Linked DNA regions of Homo sapiens. The protein of the gene in region 1 interacts with the protein of each later gene in a pairwise test. Each region holds a gene or a part of one and is shown on either strand. Other genes may lie near its edges.

Evidence for each region.
Region 2: the proteins of MFF (region 1) and TMEM218 interact in binary tests that used the Homo sapiens proteins (3 or more experiments, as listed by UniProt).
Region 3: the proteins of MFF (region 1) and AQP3 interact in binary tests that used the Homo sapiens proteins (3 or more experiments, as listed by UniProt).

The regions. Positions count from the first base shown.
Region 1 is NC_000002.12:227,334,106-227,343,075, forward strand, and holds part of MFF (mitochondrial fission factor), read left to right. Parts: intron 1-6,186; coding exon 6,187-6,275; intron 6,276-8,639; coding exon of another isoform or gene 8,640-8,714; intron 8,715-8,970. UniProt on the Homo sapiens protein: Plays a role in mitochondrial and peroxisomal fission. Promotes the recruitment and association of the fission mediator dynamin-related protein 1 (DNM1L) to the mitochondrial surface.
Region 2 is NC_000011.10:125,100,470-125,109,281, reverse strand, and holds part of TMEM218 (transmembrane protein 218), read left to right. Parts: intron 1-6,472; 5' UTR 6,473-6,548; exon of another isoform or gene 6,549-6,616; coding exon of another isoform or gene 6,617-6,645; intron 6,646-6,930; exon of another isoform or gene 6,931-6,964; coding exon of another isoform or gene 6,965-7,040; coding exon 7,041-7,150; intron 7,151-7,760; coding exon of another isoform or gene 7,761-7,838; intron 7,839-7,978; coding exon 7,979-8,081; intron 8,082-8,812. UniProt on the Homo sapiens protein: May be involved in ciliary biogenesis or function.
Region 3 is NC_000009.12:33,439,503-33,445,248, reverse strand, and holds the end of AQP3 (aquaporin-3), read left to right. Parts: intron 1-1,356; coding exon 1,357-1,483; intron 1,484-1,790; coding exon 1,791-1,928; coding exon of another isoform or gene 1,929-2,044; exon of another isoform or gene 2,045-2,070; intron 2,071-2,278; coding exon 2,279-2,397; intron 2,398-2,730; coding exon 2,731-2,948; intron 2,949-3,037; coding exon 3,038-3,206; coding exon of another isoform or gene 3,207-3,259; 3' UTR 3,260-4,089; downstream 4,090-5,746. UniProt on the Homo sapiens protein: Aquaglyceroporins form homotetrameric transmembrane channels, with each monomer independently mediating glycerol and water transport across the plasma membrane along their osmotic gradient. Could also be permeable to urea.

The sequences.
Region 1 (8,970 bases):
CTTTGGGCAAGTTATTTAACAGTTCTAGGGCGTATCTCTGAAATAAAGATAAGAATAATGCCAAGTGCATGAGATTGTTATGAGAATTAAATGTAATCATGCATGTTCTAATTCGTGTTAAAAGCTCAATATATATAAATGTTATTGTTAGGAGAGACTTAAAATCCTGTGGCAGGAGCCAGATCCTGAAATGAAAGACGAGTTTCTGAGATTAATACCAGCTGCTTATTGAAAGCAAAGATGATGGTTTGGACTTCAAGTTTATACAAGCTTATAGAAGGGTCCAGTAGCCTTCAAGAAGCACTCAACTGCAGTGAGCAAGGGAGGAAGGGGTAAGGGAGCCAGGGTTCTAGTAGCTTCTAGAAATTGACTGAAATAGAGAAGCAGTAAGGGCCTGAGTACTGATAACATTGATGATTCATTCAGGTGTTAACTCAGAATCGATAAAGTGAGATCCCCAGAACATTTGCTCTGTATCATTCTGCAGTGGATGCTAGAATGAGGTAGAGCAATAGTGCTCTACCTCAGCACTGTTGGCATTTTGGACTGGAAAATTCCTTGTTGTGGTGAGAGCCACCTTTTTGCACTGTAGAATGTTTGCAACATTTGTGATCTCTATCTACAAGATGCCATTACCGTCTTCCAAGTCATGATATCCAAAAATGTCTGTAATAGCAAAAAGGTGGAAGCAAGTAAAATATCCATCAGCTGATGAATGGATAAGCAAAACATCATCTAGCCATATAGTAACTCTTATTCAGCCATAAAAAAATGAGGTACTGGCTGGGTGCGGTGGCTCATGCCTGCAATCCCAGCACTTTGGGAGGCTGAGGTGGGCAGATCACTTGAGGTCAGGAGTTCAAGACCAGCCTGGCCAACATGGTGAGACCCTGTCTCTACTGAAAATACAAAAATTAGCTGGGCATGGTGGTGTGGACGCCTGTAATCCCAGCTACTCTGGAGGGGGAGGCAGGAGAATCACTTGAACCCCGGGGTGGAGGTAGCAGTGAACCGAGATTGTGCCACTGTACTCCGGTCTGGGCAACAGAGCCAGACTCTGTCTCTCAAAAAAAAAAAAAAAAGGTACTGATACATGCCACAACATGGATGAACCTTGAAAACATGTAAAGTTTAAGAAGCCAGACAACAAAGGCCATATATTGCATTTTTCTACTTACATGAAATATCCAGAGTGGCCAAATGAATGAAGACAGGATACAGAGCAGTGGTTGTCAGGGGGTTAGAGGAGAGGGGACTTGAGAGTGACTGCTTAATCAGTATGGGGTTTCCTTTTGGGCTGATGAAAATATTCCGGAATTAGATAGTGGTAATGATTACACAACGTTGTGAGTGTACTAAATGCCGCTGAATTGTACACTTCAACATGGTTAAAATTGTGTATGTTATGTGTGTTTTAAAATAAAAAAGAAAATACCTCCAGACATTGCCAAATGTTCTCTACAGGGCAAGATCACCCCCTACTGAAAACCACTGACCTATCTCAAGAAAGGAGAAGGCTTATGAGGAAGCCTATAAAATTGTTGTCTGAAAGCCTGATTGATGCAAGGGATAAATTTGTAGAAAGCAGTTGTACTTGAGTTCTTAAACTGGCTTAAAGAATCCAGGTGAGCCCTTGAGGAGGGCTTAAAACATAACATAAATAATCCCTTAGCTCAAAGACAGTTTAAAAATGTGAGGCTTGGCTGGAAGAGAGGAAGTTGACAAACACTTTCAATATGCCTAATCTCCACCAATATTTGGAAATCAGCTCTAAGATAAGACCATTGCTTGGTGATTCTGTCTGCTGGGAACTAACAAAGCAACTGTTCAATAAACCATGTGATCTGGGCATGAAATACAAAATGCCCAAGTCATGACAGTTTTCAGTGTTCCTACAGTAGACTAGGCAGTGTGAATGAGGAGAAAGAAGCTGTAACACTGACATTACCAGCTCTTCTCAAAAAGGAATCCGAACTGGAGCCAGTGGGGAAGGATCTTCCAGAGAACAAGAAAGAAGAACTGTAAAGAAAGAGTTGGAAAATGCTGCCTGTAAGAAGATTTGACACAACCTTGAACAGTGTGACTAAGTCAAAGATGTGGACTCTGCCGTTAAATCCTATCAATCAAGCCGTGATATGCTTTGAAAAAATCAGCTACAATAAACCCTAAGAGCTTTGTGAGAAGGCCATTGAAGTTGGAAGAAAAAACAGACTGGTCTAAAGATAGAGAGTAAAAGCTTTTGCCCAAGTTGGCATCTCTTACTTCAAAGAGGAGAAATACGAGAATACTATTCATTTCTATAATAAATCTTTGGAAGAGCACTGAACCCCAGATATACACAAGAATCGTCAATAGTTAGGAATTAATCTGGAAAGAGCAAAATCAGTTGGCATATATAAAATCTGACCTGATTTTGGAGGAGAAGAGTAAAGGCATTGAGTGGTTTCAGAAATGGAACTATCTCCAAGCCATGCCAGCTTTATACAGAAGCCATCAAATGGCATCCTCCACAGGATGCCAAATTCTACAGCAGTTATATCCAAAGTGTACAGCCAGAGCTGGAGGAGTAGAAGAAATATCTAGCTAGATCCACCCTTAACACAGATTATACTTAGAAAGCAGCAGCCTTAGAATCTGAAGGATGACACAAAAGCCATGAATGTCTAGCAGAAGGCCCTAGACCTGTAATTCTACCGTAAAGAAGTAGCAGATGGTTATTGGTGCCCAGTTCAATTGATATGACAACGCTAAGGATGTGAAGCAAAAAACCATAGCTATATGACATATCCTAAAACAAATGCAGAAGGGCTCCCAGGGACTCAGTGAATATTTAAAAGGGTCCTGTGGAAGCTTAGAAAATCAAGAACTTCATGAATATGGGTCTGATCACACTTTGGTGATGGTTTCTTGAGCTCTTTTTCCTTCCTCATCACTTCTGGAAAGAGGAGCTGGGACTGCAATGAGCAGAATGGAGCAAAAGTCTGGAGAGAAGAGGAAAAGCTGAATTGTATATATGTTTACACATTCATGCATGGAAAATTCAGAGATGGACACTTGCGTTCTTTGTACAGCTACAGTTTTATGGCCCTCTTAGCACAAGCATGGTCTCGTCACTCCTGACAAATTGGGCTATGTGTCCTTCCCAAAACCCGCAGTCACTGGCTTAACTGTTCTCCCCATGATTCGTGATTTTAAATTTTGGACAATGCACATGTTGGGGAGGGAAGATATTTATCCCAACTGTTCAGTCTACATTGATAATTTGTACCTTTCCCCCTTCTGCATAAAAGTCCCACAGAAAATGGGGGTGAGTATAGAGGAAAAACACGAAGGCTCTGAGTAGATTCCTGAAGAAGAGGTGGGCTTTGAACAGATTGAGAGAATCAGCCATCAAAAAACCTAGAGGACATTTACTTGCCCAGGAATTTATGAACAATCAAATTTAACTTGGGGTGTAAGCATATTAAAGGAGAATTGTATGCAAGCATGCAAAGTGTCTAGTGCTACATGTTATATAACTATGTAGCACTAGACACTGTGACCCAACTTCCAGGAAGCTGCTTGAACTTAGGAAACTATTTCTCAGCCTCCGGGATGAATAAAACTAAGTGCATAACCACTGAAGGATGATTCTGAAAGACATTTTAAAATTCTGCATTGAGGCCAGGCACAGTGGCTCACATTTGTAATCCCAGCACTTTGGGAAGCCGAAGTGGGTGGATCTCTTGAGGTCAAGAGATCACCAAGCCTGGCCAACATGGTGAAACCCCATCTCTACCAAAAAATACAAAAATTAGCTGGTCATGGTGTGTACCTGTAATCTCAGCTACTCAGGAGGCTAAGGCATGAAAATCTCTTGAACCCGGGAGGCAGAGATTGCATAAGCCAAGATTGTGCCACTGTACTCCATCCTGGGCAACACAATGAGACCCTATCTGGAAAAAAAAAAAAATCTCAGATTGAAACAAAACAAACATCCAGGCCGGGCATGGTGGCTCACACCTGTAATCCCAGTACTTTGGGAGGCCAAGGTGGGTGGATTACTTGAGGTTAGGAGTTCAAGACCAGCCTGGCCAACATGGTGAAACCCTATCTCTACTAAAAATAACAAAAATTATCTGGGCGAGATGGCATGCACCTGTAATCCCAGCTACTCGGGAGGGTGAGGCATGAGAATTGCTTGAACCCAGGAGGTGTAGGTTGCAGTGAGCTGAAATAGCACCATTGCACTCCAGCCTGGGGGAACAGAGTGACACTCTGTCTCAAAAAAAAAAAAAAGAAAAGAAAAACATCCACCTGGGATTACAGGTGTGAGCCACCGTGCCCAACCAAAAACATCAATAAATATTGATTGATATTTTGAAAATCTTAATTTTCAAGTCCTTAATTCACACACTATTTGTTTTTTTACTATAAAGTTTAATTTTTTAAAAACCATAATGTCGGCCGGGCGCAGTGGCTCACGCCTGTAATCCCAGCACTTTGGGAGGCTGAGGCAGCCAAATCATGAGATTAGGAGTTCGAGACCAGCCTGGCCAACATGGTGAAACACCGTCTCCACTGAAAATACAAAAATGAGCAAGGTGTGGTGGCACACACCTGTAATCCCAGCTACTCAGGATGCCGAGGCAGGAGAATTGCTTGAACCCGGGAGGCAGAGTTTGCAGTGAGTCAAGCCGAGATTGTGCCACTGCATTGCAGCCTGGGCGACAGAACAAGACTCTGTCTCAAAAAAAAACAAAAAAAAAAACCATAATGTTGCCATGGCTATTTTAGTGGGGGGTTTTTTGTTTGTTTTGTTTTTTTTAGTATTTTTGTTGGGCTCAGTGGCTCACACCTGTAATCCCAACACTTTGGGAGGCCAAGGTGGGCAGAACACTTGAGCTCAGGAGTTCGAGACCAGCCTGGGGAACATGGCAAAACCCCCATCTCTACAAAATACAAAAATTAGCCAGGTGCGGTGGTGTGTGCCTATAGTCCCAGCTACTTCAGAGGCTAAAATGGAAGGATCACTTGAGCCCAGGAGGCTGAGGCTGCAACGAGCCATGAGCATGCCACTGCACTCCAGCCTGGATGACAGAGCAAGATCCTATCTCAAAAAAAAAAAAAAAGGTATTTTCAAATAAGCAGAAAAGTTAATGATTATCACTGTTCTAGTTATCCATTTCTGTGTAACAAATCATCTTAAACTTAGTGGCTTAAAACAAACAAGCCTATGTTTTGCTCAAGCATTCTGTGGGTTAGGTATTTGCAGTTGCCGTGAAGGGAAAAGCTTGTTTCTGTTCTTCAATGTCTGGGGCCTAAGCTAGGAAGTCTCAAAGGCAAAGGATAACTCAACAGCTGGATCTGCAGTTATCTGAAGGTTTGCTCACTCACATGTCACTTGGTACTAGCTGTTGTCTGGGACCTCCATTAGGGTTGTTGGCAGGTGCACTTACACATGGCCTCACTGTGTGGCTACTTGGCCTTCCTTGTGTCATGGTGCCATTCTTCCAAATATGAGCAACCTGGGGAAAGAAAGGCAGAAGCTGTACTGTTATGACCTAGCCTCAGAAGTCACTTTGCATCATTTCTATAGGAGTCACCAGCCCTCTGAATTTCAGGGGAAAGAAACAGATCCTGTCTCTTAATGAAGAAGGTCAAAGATACATTTCATAAGAAGAGCATGTGGGATTAGAGATTGCAGCCATTCTGGAATGCCAAAACCATTAAGCTAGATACATTTTTAGTCTAGTTTTCAAATATTCAACCAAATCTTAATTTGTTACAACCGTAGAAGCCAGGAAGGTTTATTTATAATACAGATGCTCTCCATTTCCTATATGTGCCTGTAAACACTTTTATAAATTGTTCTTATAAATAAGTATATACCATAAGGTTAAACAAATAATAATTGTACCAAGTAAAATTGATACTTAAAAAGAAACTAGAGTAGCGTTCTTAAAGTAAATAGACATTCCTGTTTATCTGCATTATAGTAAGTAGGGTGTGTGTGTGTGTGTGTCTTGTTTTGTTTTTAAAGCAAGTCTGTCAGTAATACACTGCCTGGCAGCAATTCTTGGTTGCCTTTTCTTAGTTCGTTGTAAGTTTTTTGAGTAGCCTTGTATCGAGGTTCTTTTGATGCTAAGCAGCTACTAGCCTACTAAGAATATTTCTATTTCCTTCCCTCTCTTTGTGCCTTAACAGATCCGAGCAGTTGGCAGACTAAAAAGAGAGCGGTCTATGAGTGAAAATGCTGTTCGCCAAAATGGACAGCTGGTCAGAAATGATTCTCTGTGAGTAGAAGCACTAGCATTTTATCTCGTTTGTAAGTTTTCTCAGGATATTTTCTGTACCCATGTTTTTCTAAATAATTACTTCATGTAGTTTTTAAAATTTGTTTTACATCAATTTTATATTTTTGTAATACTTTTTGTAATCTTAAAATCTGGCCATTTTGTTGGTCCTGAGAATTTTTCAGTCACCTTATCCTTTCCTGTGTAGTATGATTTGCTAATTAAGTTGTCATAAGATGGTGAACTGGTCCTTTCCAGCTTTGCTTCTAATGAGCTATGTTAAACAGTGTAGCAAGACAAATAGAATTTTTTTCTTTCCAAAAGTATTTTTTAGCTTTCTCCCTTACGATTCATTGAATTTTTTGGTCCTTTTCATTTTCAGAACATACAAGTATGTTGTTTAAAAGACTATTTGTTTAAACCTTTCTTTTTCATTTGGTTGTATTATCAAATTCTGATCTTAAAGCTACCACAAGATTATTAATGTCAGTGCTTTTTTACTTTTTTATTAAAATTAATGGATTTTTACAAACAAAATGTTCTTCGAAAACTGGTCAGAATTTTAATCAGAAAGTCATTGTCAGTAGTGGCTTTTTAAATATAAATTAATATTTCTTCCTCATTAATGTTTTGGCCAATTTTCGTAAACTCATGAACCACATGTGATGGCAAGTATCATGTAAGCGTCTGTGGAAACTGAAAGAATCAGGAGATGATACATCTCTTCTGAGAGCTAGCAAATCTAAATAGAAGCAAAGCATTTAATTTTATTTACAAAATAACTAGAGGACAATACAGTGATTTATATTACAGCATATTAATCTCTAGTTTGGACCTCTCTAAAGAGTATAGGGGTACAGAAGGGGTTTTGTTGGGGTTAGGGTCATTGATATTAAAGGTAGAGAGAGGTTTTTTTTTTTTCAAATCCTTGCTTTGAAAGAACAAGGAAGTTCTAATTTCTATATAAATTATTTGCTTGCCTTACTGAAATTCCATTCTCTTGTGTTAGGTGAAAGGAGAACTAAAACTGCTCTGATTTCTTATAGAATATTGAAATATCTCCTAAGGTAGTTAAAATTATTCTGAAAGGCTGTGTAGGAAGAGAGCAGGTTAAAATGAATATATATCTCCTTCAGGGAATGCTTATGCAAGATTCAACCATTAGTAATATAAAATTTTTTGATTGTGTTTTCCCTAAAGGTATCTGGTTAGCAGTGATGTCAGCAGGCCCATGAAATCCATTTTTTCTAGACTATTTCCAAATGTATTACACAAACGGTAAAGAGGCTGTATCATTTATGGCTAAGGTGGCTTCTTGATCTGCTTTAGAGTGATTAAACATACACTCAAGAGCTTTAATTATTTTCTTTTTGTAACATTATCCTAAGGCAACAAAGATTTCTAGTAAGCTTTTCCACTTTATAAAGATGTGGCTTACTATTTAGGTTCTTAGCTACTTTGACATTTTATATTAATAAAAACAAGATTATTGTAATATAGCACCACTCTTATTTTTTCTCCCGAAGTATATATTATTTATAGCTGCATTCAGCTGAAGAGAAAGGAAACCCCTTTATTATGTACGAAAACCAGTCCAGTGAAGTATAATTTAGAGTAGATGATATAGATGTTTTTGTATTTACTCAATAACATAAGTTCCTCATAACAGAAAAGATTTACAGTGTTAACTAATACTTGATTTTCTTTTTTTTTCTTTAAGTTGCTTTAATGACATTTTCTAAATTTTTAGTAAAACTGAAAATCTCATTTTTGATAGTAAAAGTAATGAATCTTTATACATTTTCACAGTGAAACACTTAACATTGCTTAACCATATTTTTCATTATGGTTGTAAAGTATATTACCATGTTATGTATGTATTTTGTTAATAATGTAACTTTGCCCTTTCTTTTCCTACTGTTGTTAATTTTATAATTTACAATTTATCTTTAAGAATCTACATCTTACTAACTTTAGAATTTTGTATAATGAACATATTATTCAGTGTTGTTAACGTAGTGAGGAAAAAACAATTGATATAATACCTCTATTAAAATAATTATTAAACTCTTACTATCTTTACCTACTTTAGTGTTTTCTTTGTAACATGAAATTGTTGTGCGTCATAGTGCATGAAACTTTGCCTGTCTCCACTTTATTTTATTCCATGGCTTTAAGAATAAAAGTGCGAACGGGTATGAGAGCAGGAGCACTAGCCTTTGTTTTCTTAATTACTTCGAAGAGGCAATAAGATTGTGGTCAGCTATTAGCGCAAAAGTGAATTCTAAACAGTAAAATCAGATCTAGCTTTTTCTTTGTGTTATAAAAGCTGAATATGTAAAAGAAGCATAATTATTATTTAAGGTGGCACAGATCAGATTCTGCCCCAAGAAATAAAATTTCAAGGTTCCAGGCACCGATTTCTGCACCGGAGTACACGTAAGATTTTATCTGCTCTGCTTTTGACAAGTAGTTGTTTTGATTTTGAAGGATTATGTTAATACTAATCTATTCACCAGGTAATTGACGTATGCTATCCTAATTATCTTCCTGTTTGGCTTTTTAGTACCTCTGTTTCAGGATTTCTCAAACTGTCATTATATGCTTTATTAAGGAAAAAAAAAAACTAGACCATCTAAGGAAGTTGTATATGATTTTGCATGTGTTGGTGAAAGGAACCTGAAATATAATATGC
Region 2 (8,812 bases), on another chromosome or scaffold:
ACTGTTTAGATTGTATTTAATTTTAAAAATACAAGTAGTATCATACTGTGGGTTCCATTTTGCAACTTGTTTTTGTCACTCAACATTGTTTTTGAGATATATTCACATCAATACATATAGATCAATTTCATTCATTTTAAGTATTCATTATGAATATATAATATTGTATCTGTTCCCTGATTGATGGACATTTAGGTTTTTTCCTGATGTTTTGCTATTGTAAACAAAGCTGCAATAAACACCTTGTACATGTCTCTTTATGCAAGACTGTGTCTAGAACAGTGGTTCCCCAAGAAGATGTTGCTGCCCGTTTTAGGGTGTTTTGGAATTTGTGAAGATGTATTTTGTTATTCTTTGATTGGAGGCACTACTGGGGTTTACAGATCAGGACTGCGGATACTGGATGTTCTGTAATGTATGGGACAGTCCTCACAACGAAGAATTGTCCTGCATCCTGTGCAAATTTTGAGTATCCCACAGGATACTCATTTATAATTATCTGAGTGTAGAGCCTAACTCCGGTTTTTGTATAAACATAATGTATTTTTTGGCACAGTTTAATATAGTAAAATTTCCAGGAATGCAACTCTAATGTAAATCAGAGGAAAATTATACTTATTTGTGGTTTGGAACTTTAACAAGAGTTGTTCATCACTCTAGCAAATCACATAACTGAAGGCAGCACAGCTCGTGGTATTTGAGTTGCCAGAACAACACACCTGCATAGTCTGCATTTGAAGCTTTTGCATTCATGGTGATTCTAAGTTTAGGTGCAAGCATCTGACTACTGTACTTCATTATGTATTCTAGTGTAGTCAGCCTGAACATTTGTATATTTAAACATATGCTATTTCATTACGAATTACTTTCCATTTAAAATCAACTTCTGTATATCATATAGAGATCTAGTTTTATTCTTTTCCTATTGGAGAATCATTTGTCCCAACACTATCTATGAAGTTCTTTACCCATTGAATCATAAAGCCAACTCTGTGCTGTAGGAAGTTCTCACAAATGCATGGATCTGTTTCTGGGTTCTTGATTTTATACCACTGGGCCATGTGTCTTTGTGCCACTATCACACTGTTTTAATTACTTTGGTTTTTCAATGTGTCTTGCGGCAGTTGGTAACAAGAAAGGCAAGTTGCCATCCTAGTTCTCAAAATTGTTTTGGCTATTCTTGGGTTTTTGCTCTTCCATATGAATTTAGGATCCGTTTTCAAGTTCCACAAAAAATTGTTTTTAGACTTTGGTTAGGATTGCATTGAATTTATAGGTTAAGGAAAATTGAGATTTTTTTAATTGAACCATCCCATCCGGGAACACAGGTTATTTCTCTGTTCAGGTCTGCTTTATTTCTTTATTCAGGTCCTCTCTCTCTCTTTTTTTTTTTTTTGTCTTTGATAAAGTTTTATAATTTTAGCTATACAAATCTTACTCATCTTTTATATTCATATTTATGCAGATATATATATATATATACACACATATCCACATCTTTTTATTATGAAAGTTTAAAATATATTCAGAAATATAGAAAATAGGCTAGCAAACATCTACACACTCATCACCCAGCTTCAACAACTAGCTCATGACCAGTCTTGTTTCATGTCAGCCCCTTCACCTCCTCTCACTGAGGTAATAGAAAGCTCCTAGAAACCCTTTTCTGTTATCTGTAATGTGCTACGTGTGTATGCATATATCTTTATCATAAATAATCTTTTAACAATATAATAATATCATCTTTTTAATAGTGTTTTTTCACTGAAAATACAAACAGTAATTTCATAATATTATCAAATATCTGAATATTCTTCAGATTTCCCCAATCATTTCATAAAAGGTTTTTGCAATGCTTCGTTCGAATCAGGACCAAATAAGGGTCCATATACTACACATGGCTGATACATCTCTTAATATTCTTTCTGTAAACATTTTAGTGAAGGGTAATACACATACAGAAAAGTATATAAATCCTAAGTGCATGGTTAGATACAACATCACCGTATGAACAAACCCAGGTGAACAAAACCCAGATCAAGAAACAGAATTTTATCAGCATCTCCCTGAACCTCCTACAGTCACTATGTTTCACAAGCCAACCATACGCCTGACCTCCAGCCCCTAAAATTAGTTTGACCTGTTTTGAACATTATATAAATGGACTCATATACTATGAACTCTTTAGCCTCTAGCTTTTTTCATTTAATATTTGTGAAATTCATCCACATTGTTGAGTATAGTTGTAGTGTGTTCTTTCTCATTGCTTTATACTATTCTCATTGCTTTATACTACATAATGCTTTATATACTGTATGAATGAATAGATTGTAGAGTACTATATCCACTCTATTGGCAGATATTTGGATTGTTTAAGGTTTTAGCTATTTCAGGTAGGGCTGCAATGTCTTTTTTTTGAATTTAGGTGTGCGTTTCTGTTGGGAATACACCTAAGAATAGAAGAGCTGGATGTAGGATGCATTTATATTTAGCTTTATTAGATACTGCCAATAGTCTCCAAAGCAGTGGTTAACAAATTATGGCCCTTGCCAGCCGTATATGAGGGTTCCAGTTACTCCACATCTTTGTCAACACTTGCTGTTGTCTGTTGTTTTCATGTTAGCCATTCTGGTGGGTATATGAAGGCACTGAATTTGGTTTTAATTTGCAATTTCCGGATGACTAATGAAGTTGAGCACCTTTTTACATATTTATTCTCATTCAGGTATCCTCTTTCTCAAGTGTTTATTCTTTTTTTATCTGCTTGATCTATCAGTTTCTGAGACATATATTAAAATCTCCTGCTAAATTAGTGGTTTTATACATTTATTGTAGTACTTCTGTCAGTTTTGGCTTTATATATTTGGAGGTTTTGTTGTTAGGTTCACATTTGTTTCAGGTTGTATCTTTTTACTGAATGGTTCCTTTTGTCACTGTTCTTAATATTTTTCAGAGCTTTACATCTGTTTTGCGTGGTACTAATATTGCTTCATAGCTTATATTTTATTTTGTTTCACTTGGTTTTTTTTCAACTGTGGCTTATAAAAAAACAAAAACAAAAACAAAAAAACAGAATTTCCTGTCTTAACCATTTTTAAGAGTGCAGATCAGCAGTGTTAAGTATATTCACAGTGTTGTGAAACAGAGCTCCAAGATGCTTTCATCTTGCAAAACTGAAACTCTATACTCATTCACCATCTCCCTATTCCCTCCTTCCCTGGTTTTTGTCTTGTTAATATTTGCTTTGCATGTCTTTCTCAATCTCTTTATTTTCAGCCTCTCATTATACTTTCTGTAGAGCTTTTGTACACAGCTATTTTTAAAAAGAAAAATCTAAGAGAATTTCTTTTAGTAGTCAAATATAATGTTTCCATGTACTATGATTACTGTTGTATTTGGGTTTATTTTTACAATCTTATTTTGTATTTTCCATTTTCCTTGCGTATTCTTTGTTCTGCCACCCACCTCACACCCACTGACCCTTGCCCCACTTTCTGTTTTCTTTATTTTTTTTTCACTTTACTAGTATAGAAGCTATTTTTTCTATTTCTGTTGCTTGCTGTTTACCTGTATGTTTTTTTAACTTGTGTACTTAGCTTAAAAAACATATACCTCCTCCAAAACAAAATCACTGTAGAATGCTTTAACTTTGAACTATCCTTTTCCATCTACCATATAACTGTTGAGTAATATTTAGTCCTTTCTGATTTTTAACCCCTCAAAAATTGTCATTATTACAGAAATCTTTACTGTCAATATTTCTTAATAATTTTCTCACCATGCTTCCTGTATCTCATACCTCCTTTCTTGGTTCATTTTCCTTCTTGCTGAAGTATGTCTCTGAGTAGCCCTTTCACTGAGGATCCTTGAGAGGTGTACTACATTTCACCCTTTGTATGTCTGAAAACATCTTTGTTTTACACTTACTCTTGAGGGAGTCTTGCATGCCAGCCTGTGGGTTTAGTTTTGTCTCTGCTGGGATCCAATGGGTTCTCACTTTTAGTCTAGTTTTCATGTTAATCTTTCTATTTGGGATTCCCATATCACATCGGTAGTATTGAATCTCACACATGGATATGATGTGAGGTGGGGATTCAGATTTCTCTTGGGCTGTTGTTTTTTGACCTGTGGCCTGAAGCACTCAGCCAGCTTCCTTCCAACTAAGTCAGTAGCAAATTATTTAGACCCTATTTCAAAAACTGGTCAATCCTGTGAGGGCCCAGCTTTCTGCATTGTTCTCATTGCTAGTTCTTTGCCATCGTGGGCTTGAGACCTTATCTGCCCTGAAGAGAATCACCCTGAAGGTCTGTATCAGGCACCAGGACCCTCGTAGACTTTTAGGCTCAGCTCAGGCCTTGAGTTACATTTTTTTATAGCACTTAATGATTTTTCTTTATTGCTTTCGAGCTCTGCTGTGTACTAAATTCTTCTTGTTCTATTTTATTGAACATTTATGTGTTTGCTGTTGTATGAGGCACTTCCCTTGTTAACTTCCATCCAGCATATTGACCAGAGGTTACAGTCATCTTTCTAAAACTCCATATGATCCTTTCACTCCCTCACCTGATGTTTGTGGACTTGTTAGCACTGTGTCATTTATTCCTCCCACAGATACTTGTTGTGCATAATCTCTGTGCTAAGAACTGGGGTTACCACAGTGAGAAAGATATCAGGTCTCTGCCTTCGTGGAGTTTACTATTCTAGTTGGACAGACAGAAAATAAACTTGTAAACAAATAAATGAAAATATTAACTAGTTTTGTGAAAAATGCTCTGAAGGAAATAGAGTGATGGAGAGTCAGTGTTTGAGGGGTTACTTTAGAGAAGACACTCGGGGAAGACCTCACTGAAGAGTGACATTTAAGCAGAAATCAGAAGGCTGAGGAAAGCCAGTCCTACAAATAGTAGCAGGAGTGCTTGGGGTTGAGGGCTAGTTCCAGGCAGTGGAAACAGCAAGTACAAAGACCCAGAGATGGGGAAACCCCGGGCGTGTTAGAGTGACCGAGATGGCGCCCATGTGGCCCTAATGAGGGCAGACTGCTCCCCAGAGAAGTTAGGCATGCAGGTGGGCCCCAGGTCCCATCTCCCCTCACTCTGTCATCTTTTCACTCTGATTCTTTCCTAAATGTGCCTGTGCAGAGTATTTCCTTTGTAAAGCCCCTCTCACTATTGCAGTTCCCACTGCACTTCGCTTTTACCATTAATCAGAATGTAATATGGACACTTGTTTTCAGGACAATGTTCTCCAATAGACCTTGAGCTTCTGTCAGAAGATATCTTATTCACCTTTGGCATCCCCAGCTTGTAGCGCAGTGCTTTACATGGTGGGAACATCATAAATGTTGATTCAATAAACGTATTTTTTTTACCAGTTCATGCTTAGACCCTCCTTTCCAATAACTTTATAACTTCTCATAGCTAATATTTTCGTGGTATTTAAACCATAAGGGTAAAGAAAACCAGCAACCTAGAGGAATGTGTTTGCTTAAGACTTGTCTCCAATGCTGAAAAGGAAAACCAGGAGAGGTAGTGTGGTGTGCTGTTCCTCTGCTGTGAGTTGAATGGTGGTCCCCAAAAATATATGTCCGCATCCTCACCCCTGGAATCTGTGACCATGACCTTGTTTGACAAAAGGGTCTTTGCAGATTTAATTAAGTTAAGCATCTCAAGATAATACTAGATTATTTGTACAGACCCTAAATCCAATGACAAGTACCGTTATAAGAGACAGAAAATGTGAAGACAGACACAGGAGAATGCCATGGGAAGATGGAGGCAGAGACTGGAGTTGTGAGTTAAAAGCCAGTGAATGGTGCCTGGAGCTACCAGAAGATGGAAGAGGCAGGGAAAGATTCTCCCCTAGAGCACTGATCCCCAATCTTTTTGGTACCAGGGACTGGTTTCATGGAAGACAGTTTTTCCACAGGGGGATGCAGGGGGGTGGTTTCCGGATGAAACTGTTCCACCTCAGATCTTCAGGCATTAGATTCTCATAAGGAGCCTGCAACCTAGATGCTTCGCACGTGCAGTCCACACTAGGGTTCGTGCTCCTGTGAGAACCTAATGCCGCTGCCACTGATAGGACAGGAGGCGAAGCTCAGGTGGTAAGGCTGGCTTGCCTGCTGCTCACCTCCTCCTGTGCGGCCCAGTTCCTAAAAGGCCATGGACCAGTACCAGTCCATGGCCCAGGGGTTGGGGACCCCTGCCCTAGAGCCTTTGGAGGGAGCACAGCCCTGCTGACACCTTTATTTTGGATTGCTGGCCTGTGAGAAAATAAATTTCTATTTTGAGCTGCTAATTAGGAAACTAATAGATACCCCATCGCGCTTATATCTCACTTACCCATCCTGTAACATGGCTATAGTAATACCTTTCTCAGAAGCTTCGCTCCGGGATTCAATGAGATATGTTTGTACGGCACTTAGCACACAGTGAATGTTCAAAAATAGTGATGGCTGTTCCTCTTCTTTAAGGACTGGGAGTTTTCATCCTCTTGAATAAGAACTCGACAACAGAGTGGGAACTTTCTGTCTTGTGATCCATTGCCTGGTGAGTCACAGCTCACACCATGGATTTAACCTGAGAGCTTCAACTTCTGCTTTGGCCCTGGAGTTCCCATGCCCTGGTGTCTTCTACCAGTTCTTAGGTAGGGTTTTATATTCAGAGAGGGTTCAGCTTTCTCCCGTGGGCTGGGGGAAGAGGTCAAAGTAGAACTCAGGTACCAAATTTGAAAGGAAACACTCAGAAAAAACTTCTGAGCGCAGAGCGGAAAACACCCTCTCAGTCCCCACCAAAGAGAAAGGCTTTGGGTTCTAAATTTCCAGTTTCCATTAAGGGACTCTGGGACTGGACATTTCTGAAAATTAATGACCTGTACTGAGTAATCCTCCTAACACACTGATCATCAAAAAATAACCTGTAATGAGTTTAGGCTTTCTGTATTTGTCTGAATGCTTTCACGGGAGTGTGTTGCACTGGAGCACAGAGGACACTCGATCGTGCGGCGCGCAGGGCGGGGGGCCGCCGCTGCCTCCCCGCGGGATGGCTGGCACTGTGCTCGGAGTCGGTGCGGGCGTGTTCATCTTAGCCCTGCTCTGGGTGGCAGTGCTGCTGCTGTGTGTGCTGCTGTCCAGAGCCTCCGGGGCGGCGAGGTAAGGCATTCTGTCCAACTGGGAGTCCTAGGTAAAGCAATTAGAGGCAAAATCGCTGATGCTCACTAAACATTTAGAATTTAAGAGATCAGTTTTGTAATTACTGGCAGTTTGAATGAGTTGCATTTTAACCTCTTTTTATAAACACTAACTGTGTTATTTATGCTCTGGAGCAGAGATGGGAGGAGAAGGAAGTAGTGTTCTTGAGTTCTAACTGTGGCAAGAAACTCTGCTTTCACTGCTTATTGAGTTTCTTGAGGCTGTATGTGTATGTGTTTATGAATTGTTCAGATTTATGGCAGAGGCTTGGTCCAGTACCCGAGGCTCTAGCCCTGGACCCAGGAAAACGAAAGCAACATTTGATGAGTTGGGCCTGCTTTCTATATCAGGCATTGCCTTCAGAACAGGGTTAGGCCATAAACCGACTCTGAAAACACTAGAGTTGCACTCTGGCAAGACAGTGTTAGTATGAAGCAGAGAGTTGTAGAATTTTCTAAAGTATTCTGTTCTAAAAACAACAGAAGTGGAGGTGGAGAGGGGATGCTTTGGTTTTTCTTGATTATGACTTTGGGCAGAAGTAAAAATAAAAACTACACATTTCCATTCTTAGGAATTGGGAATTACCAAGAATAAATGGGAATGCACCCAGCTGGTACCTGTCTAGGAAGAAGGACTTTGGGATGAAGAGGTTGTTGACAGCAGGCCTCTGGACATTGTTAAGGGACTGAAACATAGAATATTGGCTCCAAGGAAGAGACTGTCCAGACCTAACTGATCAAAGAAGAAATTATAGACAGTGCTTTTAATAATTTGTCTTTTTAACCCCAGGTTCTCTGTCATTTTTTTATTCTTCGGTGCTGTGATCATCACATCAGTTCTGTTGCTTTTCCCGCGAGCTGGTGAATTCCCAGCCCCAGAAGTGGAAGTTAAGGTAAAGCTGTTGCTTTCGTTTTGCCTCCTGAGCTGTGATTCTTATTTCTCTTGGTCTGCACATCCGTCCTGCCCTTGATGTTCCCTGACATCGGGTTGCCTGAGATGTCAGAATTGTAAAGTTCAACCAATGACGGGGAAAGTTCAGAGGGAGTTTTAAGTTCCCCTGCCCCTTCACTCAGGAAAAGAATCTTACTCTGAATTCCATCTACAACCCCACCAGGCAGTTATTTGCCTGATTTGGTCTCATCTTCAGTTTGCATCAAGTTGAAAACAGCCTGTTGGAAAGCCACCTCGTACCATGGGGACAGAAAAAAAAGAAAATGAAATAGGGATAGTCACAGGCCTGCACCCGAGATGAAGTGTTCCCATTCCTGGCAGCCTGGGCTCCTAACTGCAGATCCTGGGCTGAAATTGATGTGGTGCCCTGAGGGTGCTGAGGACATGCTTCTCCAACTGCATGTGCTAGAATTTTCCCAACAGTCTTCTGGGAGTTCTTTGGTCCTCATACCTGGGACCATACCTGCCAGCACCCATGTCTTTAAATGGATTTTTATCATCTCTCTCAGAATCCTTCTCTGGAGTTCTTTACCATGGCTTTACCATGCATGGCTGGTCTCAGACCCATGGGATCTTGACAATGACATTGACCTTTTCTGTCCCATTACTCCTTCTCACAGCTTTCCTCTCAACCTTCATTTTGATGTTTTAAGTGATAGTCATGAAAATAGC
Region 3 (5,746 bases), on another chromosome or scaffold:
GCAGCTTTGAGGGACACTCAGGGGGCTCAGGGCAACAATGCTTTACAGCTGCTGCAGAAGTATTTTCAGGCTTGAACAAGGGGAACAGACATAGTACGTTCTTTTTCTTTTTTAAATAGAGACAAAGTCTCACTATGTTGCCCAGGCTGTTCTCAAACTCCTGGGTTCAAGATCCTCCCATCTCAGCCTCCAAAGTGCTGGGATTACAGGTGTGAGCCACCACAGCTGGCTCCAGTATGTTCTATATTTGTAGAACACCAGGGCTCTTAGTCTCTTTTAGTTCCCCCATTTTTGGCAGAAAGTTTAGAACCGATCTCCCCATTTCTACAGCCCTGGGTCCCGGGCTGGGGATAGTGAGAGGAGCCACACAGATCCCTGTCTGTAGGACCTCCAAATCTGAGTGGGGAATCTGGACCCCTGAGAGCAGAGAGGTCATGGGTGGAGAGAGGAGACGCTGGGACAGGGACAGGTAAAGGAAGGGGAGGTTGTTGAGGGGGACATGGTGAAGGCTGGGGCTCTGGCATCCTGGACTCAGGAGAAGTGGATTCAACCTCACTTCTGGTCTCCTCCCTATTTATTTATGCCGCCCATTGCCACCACTACCACCACCACATGAGCTTTTCTTTTCAACTCTTTTTTTTTTTTTTTTGAGATGGAGTCCCGCTCTGTCGCCCAGGCTGAAGTGCAGTGGCGCAATCTTGGCTCACTGCAACATCTGCCTCCCATTTTCAAGTGATTCTCCTGCCTCAGCCTCCCGAGTAGCTGGGATTACAGGCACCTGCCACCACGCCTGGCTAATTTTTGTACTTTTAGTAGAGATGGGGTTTCACTATGTTGGCCAGGCTGGTCTCAAACTCCTGACCTCAGGTGATCCACCCACCTCGGCCTACCAAAGTGCTGGGATTACAGTGTGAGCCACTGCACCGGGCCTACATGAGCTTTTCTTTGGGGCAGCTGGGGGATGAGTGAGAGGCTTCCCACCTTTATGGTCCAGGCCTGAAGGGCTGTGGAGAAACTTGTGCTAAGGTGAAAGCTGTTCCCCTACACCTACGCCTGCTGAAATTCAAGGAAAATCAGTGAAGATGGTTCAGTCATCTTCTAGGATCCCAGTCGCAGACCCTGCTTCCAGCCCTTTCCATAGGGCCCTCTCATATTAGAGTTGGGACAGTGGGGTGGGAAGGCATGTGTCCTTTTTCTGGAAAGTGCAATTACAGCAGAAGGGGTTTGGGCTGGGTTCCAGGAAGCGCCTCTAGTCCTCCCAGTGGTGGCGAGTGGGCATGTTGCTGGCTTCACCCCTTCCTTCTGGAGTGAGAGTTGCTGGTCCTCACCCTCCCTGCCTGTTCTTCTTCCTGACAGATGTTTGGCTGTGGCTCCGTGGCCCAGGTTGTGCTCAGCCGGGGCACCCACGGTGGTTTCCTCACCATCAACCTGGCCTTTGGCTTTGCTGTCACTCTGGGCATCCTCATCGCTGGCCAGGTCTCTGGTAAGGCCTTAACCCTGCCCCCAGCCCTTGGCCCTCAATAGCATTCCCACTAGGTGTCCTGGCATTCCTAAGGGCAGGTCACAGCTGTGGCCTCTGCTTTGGCCCCTTGGGAAAGGAGGGTGGAGAAGAAACTTGACACTTAGAACTTTCGACTCTCACCTTGGAATCAGAGATTATCAGCTGACCTGTTACATAGACCAACCGCCATCCTGTGCAAGAAACCCCTCTCTGCACCCCTTCTCAGGGGACCCTAGCCTGCCGACTGTGGCAGGCTGCAGCTAATAGGTCCCTTGTCCCCTCTGCCCAGGGGCCCACCTGAACCCTGCCGTGACCTTTGCCATGTGCTTCCTGGCTCGTGAGCCCTGGATCAAGCTGCCCATCTACACCCTGGCACAGACGCTGGGAGCCTTCTTGGGTGCTGGAATAGTTTTTGGGCTGTATTATGGTAAGCATTCCCCACCCTGTCCTCCTCCACTACCCCCGTCCCTCTGTTCAGGACCTGCTGGCACCAGGCCTTTTGATGACAGACGGCTAGGACCTGCCCAGGCCCCGGGCTCATGACTCACTCATTCACGCACAGGGTCAAGGTAGGGGGCACGAAGGGAAAGAAACAAGTTGGGCAATAACAGAGTCTCAGGCCCTCCACCCCACCCCACGCCACCCCCTCTGCCTGCTGCAATACAGCAGTATTGCTACTTACCCATAACTCATGGGAGGGTGGGGAGGGCACACCTGAGAGGGAAGTCTGGGCTCAGGCCTCTCCCCCGACTCACTGTGTGTCTAATCTGTCACCAGATGCAATCTGGCACTTCGCCGACAACCAGCTTTTTGTTTCGGGCCCCAATGGCACAGCCGGCATCTTTGCTACCTACCCCTCTGGACACTTGGATATGATCAATGGCTTCTTTGACCAGGTATGGGCTGGGGACGTGTGAGGGGAACGCAGGGAGGGGACCGAGTTGCCTTGGTAGCTCATGGGCTGGTTGGGGGACAGGACTCCTCGACTGTAGCAGGGTTTCTCCAATCTGTGGGGTAACCCGCATCAGAACATGGTGGCAAGTACTTACAAAACATGCGGCTCTCCAGCGGGTTCTTGTCACGCAGACATTCTAGCACCATTGCTTTCAGGAGAAGAGCATGGGCGGGCGCTGACAAGAGTTTAAGAGCTAGAGGGAAGACGGGGGATGGAAGGAGGGGTCAGAGAAAGGGAGGGAGCTGCAGCTCACCCTGTTCTCCCCACTCCCCAGTTCATAGGCACAGCCTCCCTTATCGTGTGTGTGCTGGCCATTGTTGACCCCTACAACAACCCCGTCCCCCGAGGCCTGGAGGCCTTCACCGTGGGCCTGGTGGTCCTGGTCATTGGCACCTCCATGGGCTTCAACTCCGGCTATGCCGTCAACCCTGCCCGGGACTTTGGCCCCCGCCTTTTTACAGCCCTTGCGGGCTGGGGCTCTGCAGTCTTCACGTGAGTACAGCCCCCACCCAGCTCACCCCAGCCTGCCTCTCCTCTGCCCTGCCCCCCATGTCCCTGACTATGAGTGTCTGTCCCCCCAGGACCGGCCAGCATTGGTGGTGGGTGCCCATCGTGTCCCCACTCCTGGGCTCCATTGCGGGTGTCTTCGTGTACCAGCTGATGATCGGCTGCCACCTGGAGCAGCCCCCACCCTCCAACGAGGAAGAGAATGTGAAGCTGGCCCATGTGAAGCACAAGGAGCAGATCTGAGTGGGCAGGGGCCATCTCCCCACTCCGCTGCCCTGGCCTTGAGCATCCACTGACTGTCCAAGGGCCACTCCCAAGAAGCCCCCTTCACGATCCACCCTTTCAGGCTAAGGAGCTCCCTATCTACCCTCACCCCACGAGACAGCCCCTTCAGGATTTCCACTGGACCTTGCCCAAATAGCACCTTAGGCCACTGCCCCTAAGCTGGGGTGGAACCGGAATTTGGGTCAATACATCCTTTTGTCTCCCAAGGGAAGAGAATGGGCAGCAGGTATGTGTGTGTGTGCATGTGTGTGCATGTGTGTGCATGTGTGTGCAGGGGTGTGTGTGTGTGGGGGGGGTTCCCAGATATTCAGGGCAAGGGACCAGTCGGAAGGGATTCTGGCTATTGGGGGAGCCCAGAGACAGGGGAAGGCAGCCTGTCCATCTGTGCATAAGGAGAGGAAAGTTCCAGGGTGTGTATGTTTCAGGGGCTTCACATGGAGGAGCTGCAGATAGATATGTGTTTCTGTGTATGTGTATGTCTGCCTTTTTTTCTAAGTGGGGGCTTCTACAGGCTTTTGGGAAGTAGGGTGGATGTGGGTAGGGCTGGGAGGAGGGGGCCACAGCTTAGGTTTGGAGCTCTGGATGTACATACATAAGTAGGAGCAGTGGGACGTGTTTCTGTCATAATGCAGGCATGAAGGGTGGAGTGAAGTCAGGTCATAAGTTTCATGTTTGCTTTTGTTTTGTTTTGTTTTTAATGTATGTAGCAGATGTTACAGTCTTAGGGATCCGGGATGGGAGACCCCACTTTAGAAAGGGTCGTCACTCCTTTAATCCTCTACTCAACAATGTACTCTTTTACTTTTATATTAAAAAAAATAAAATAAATATGTGCCTAAAACCTCCAGTTGTGCAAATATCTTTCTGCTTGCTCTGCTGCTTTTCTGGGGCCAGTTAAGGAGCTTCCGCATGCCCACACTGACCCAGGGTGCCCGGCTGAGTGTCTGATCTGGTCAGGTTACCCTGGGGGTCATACAGAGAGGTTAGAGAGCCTCTTCACCAAGGCTCTCAGTTTGAACTCAGTGGTCCCAAACTTTCCCCCAAGTTTCCGTCCTCATGGGTACCCCCAGCATAATGAATGGAATCTTCTTCCCAATCCCTGTACCCACACATCACCCCAGAAAGGCTTGAGCCCTATGCAGGGAAGATCTTGCTGCAGAGCTACCCAATGGGGAGAACTGCTGCCCAGGAGGTGGTGAGTTCCCTGTTCCTGGAGGAGACCCATCAGACTGGGAACCTGTATTGTCCTCCACAACCTGCAGCTATTCAGGCTCCATAACCTCCACCCAGACCTTGGCCACAGCCCCCCTGGCAGCCTCCCTGCCTCCAGGCCTGCCCCAGTCAGTCCACAAAGCAACCAGAGGGATCTCTTCAAAACCTCTGCTGAAAGTGCCCATCTGGAGACCATCCACAATGCTCCATCTGGCGTTCAGGACCTCCAGGTAGGGTCAGGAGCCTACCCCTCCTCTCACATGGCTCCATCCACCTCAGCCTACTTTATGTGTTTCTGTGTTTTTGTGTCTTCAGACTTTGCTCCAAAGTCCCAACTCACATCTTTGCTCATTAAAGTCCTCATGATCTGCTTTAACGCCTCTTCCTCCGGGAAGCCATCCCTGCTCTGCCTCACTCTTCCAGCAACTTCTAGTCAGCTGTCTTAAGTGCCAAGACCCGCAGTTGCGTTCACGCTCATCTCCCCTTCTGCTTCATTTCTTCAGTCATTTCTTCACTTCTACAGAGGCACCTCTGTGCCCAGTAAGGCAGGGGGTTGGAAGACTGACTCTGGCGCTCTGACTTGCCCAGAAAAGCAACGGGCTCGGCACACCTGAGAACAGGAAGCTTTTCTCATTTGCTTCTTCCTTACCATACCCTCCTCAAGTTTCATCAAGGGAAACTTCATGCAATACAAGGGAAGGCATCCCCTACCCAATCCCTCCTCTGAGCGAACCCCATGGGAGCCAGAGGATCCCTGGGTGTGGCAGGCGAATTGTGGTTTTTAGAAGCTAAGCCAGCTTTTGCTCTCCAGCCTTCACAGATGAGATCATGGTCCAGAGAGGGCGGGTGGCAAACACAGGGTCACACAGCCAAGAATCTGCCTACGGAGGTGAGGGCAGGAGAAGGCAATACCATTTTAGGTTTCTATCCCTTCTTTGTCCCCAGCTCCCAAGAGGCGTGTCTGGAATGCTGGAGGGACCTGAGCCAGAGGGAGTGTCCCCTTCCCAGGCCCTGGGGGGAGGAAGGGCAAACCTTGGGAGGGGAATACGGCTGCAGAGGGTCATTCCAGCCACACCAGTCCCACCTGGGCTGCCCTCACCTTGCTGTCCTCCCCAGCATGCCCCATGTCCTTCTGTCACCCATTTCTCTCAAATCCTGCTGCTGACCCTGACCAGTCAGCCTAGGGGGTGTTGGCAGCACTTTTGGTGCTGCCACCTGGCCCAGCAAGGATTCTCTAGCTGGGTGACCTTGGGGTAGTCATGTTCTTTTCCTGAACCTCCCTTATC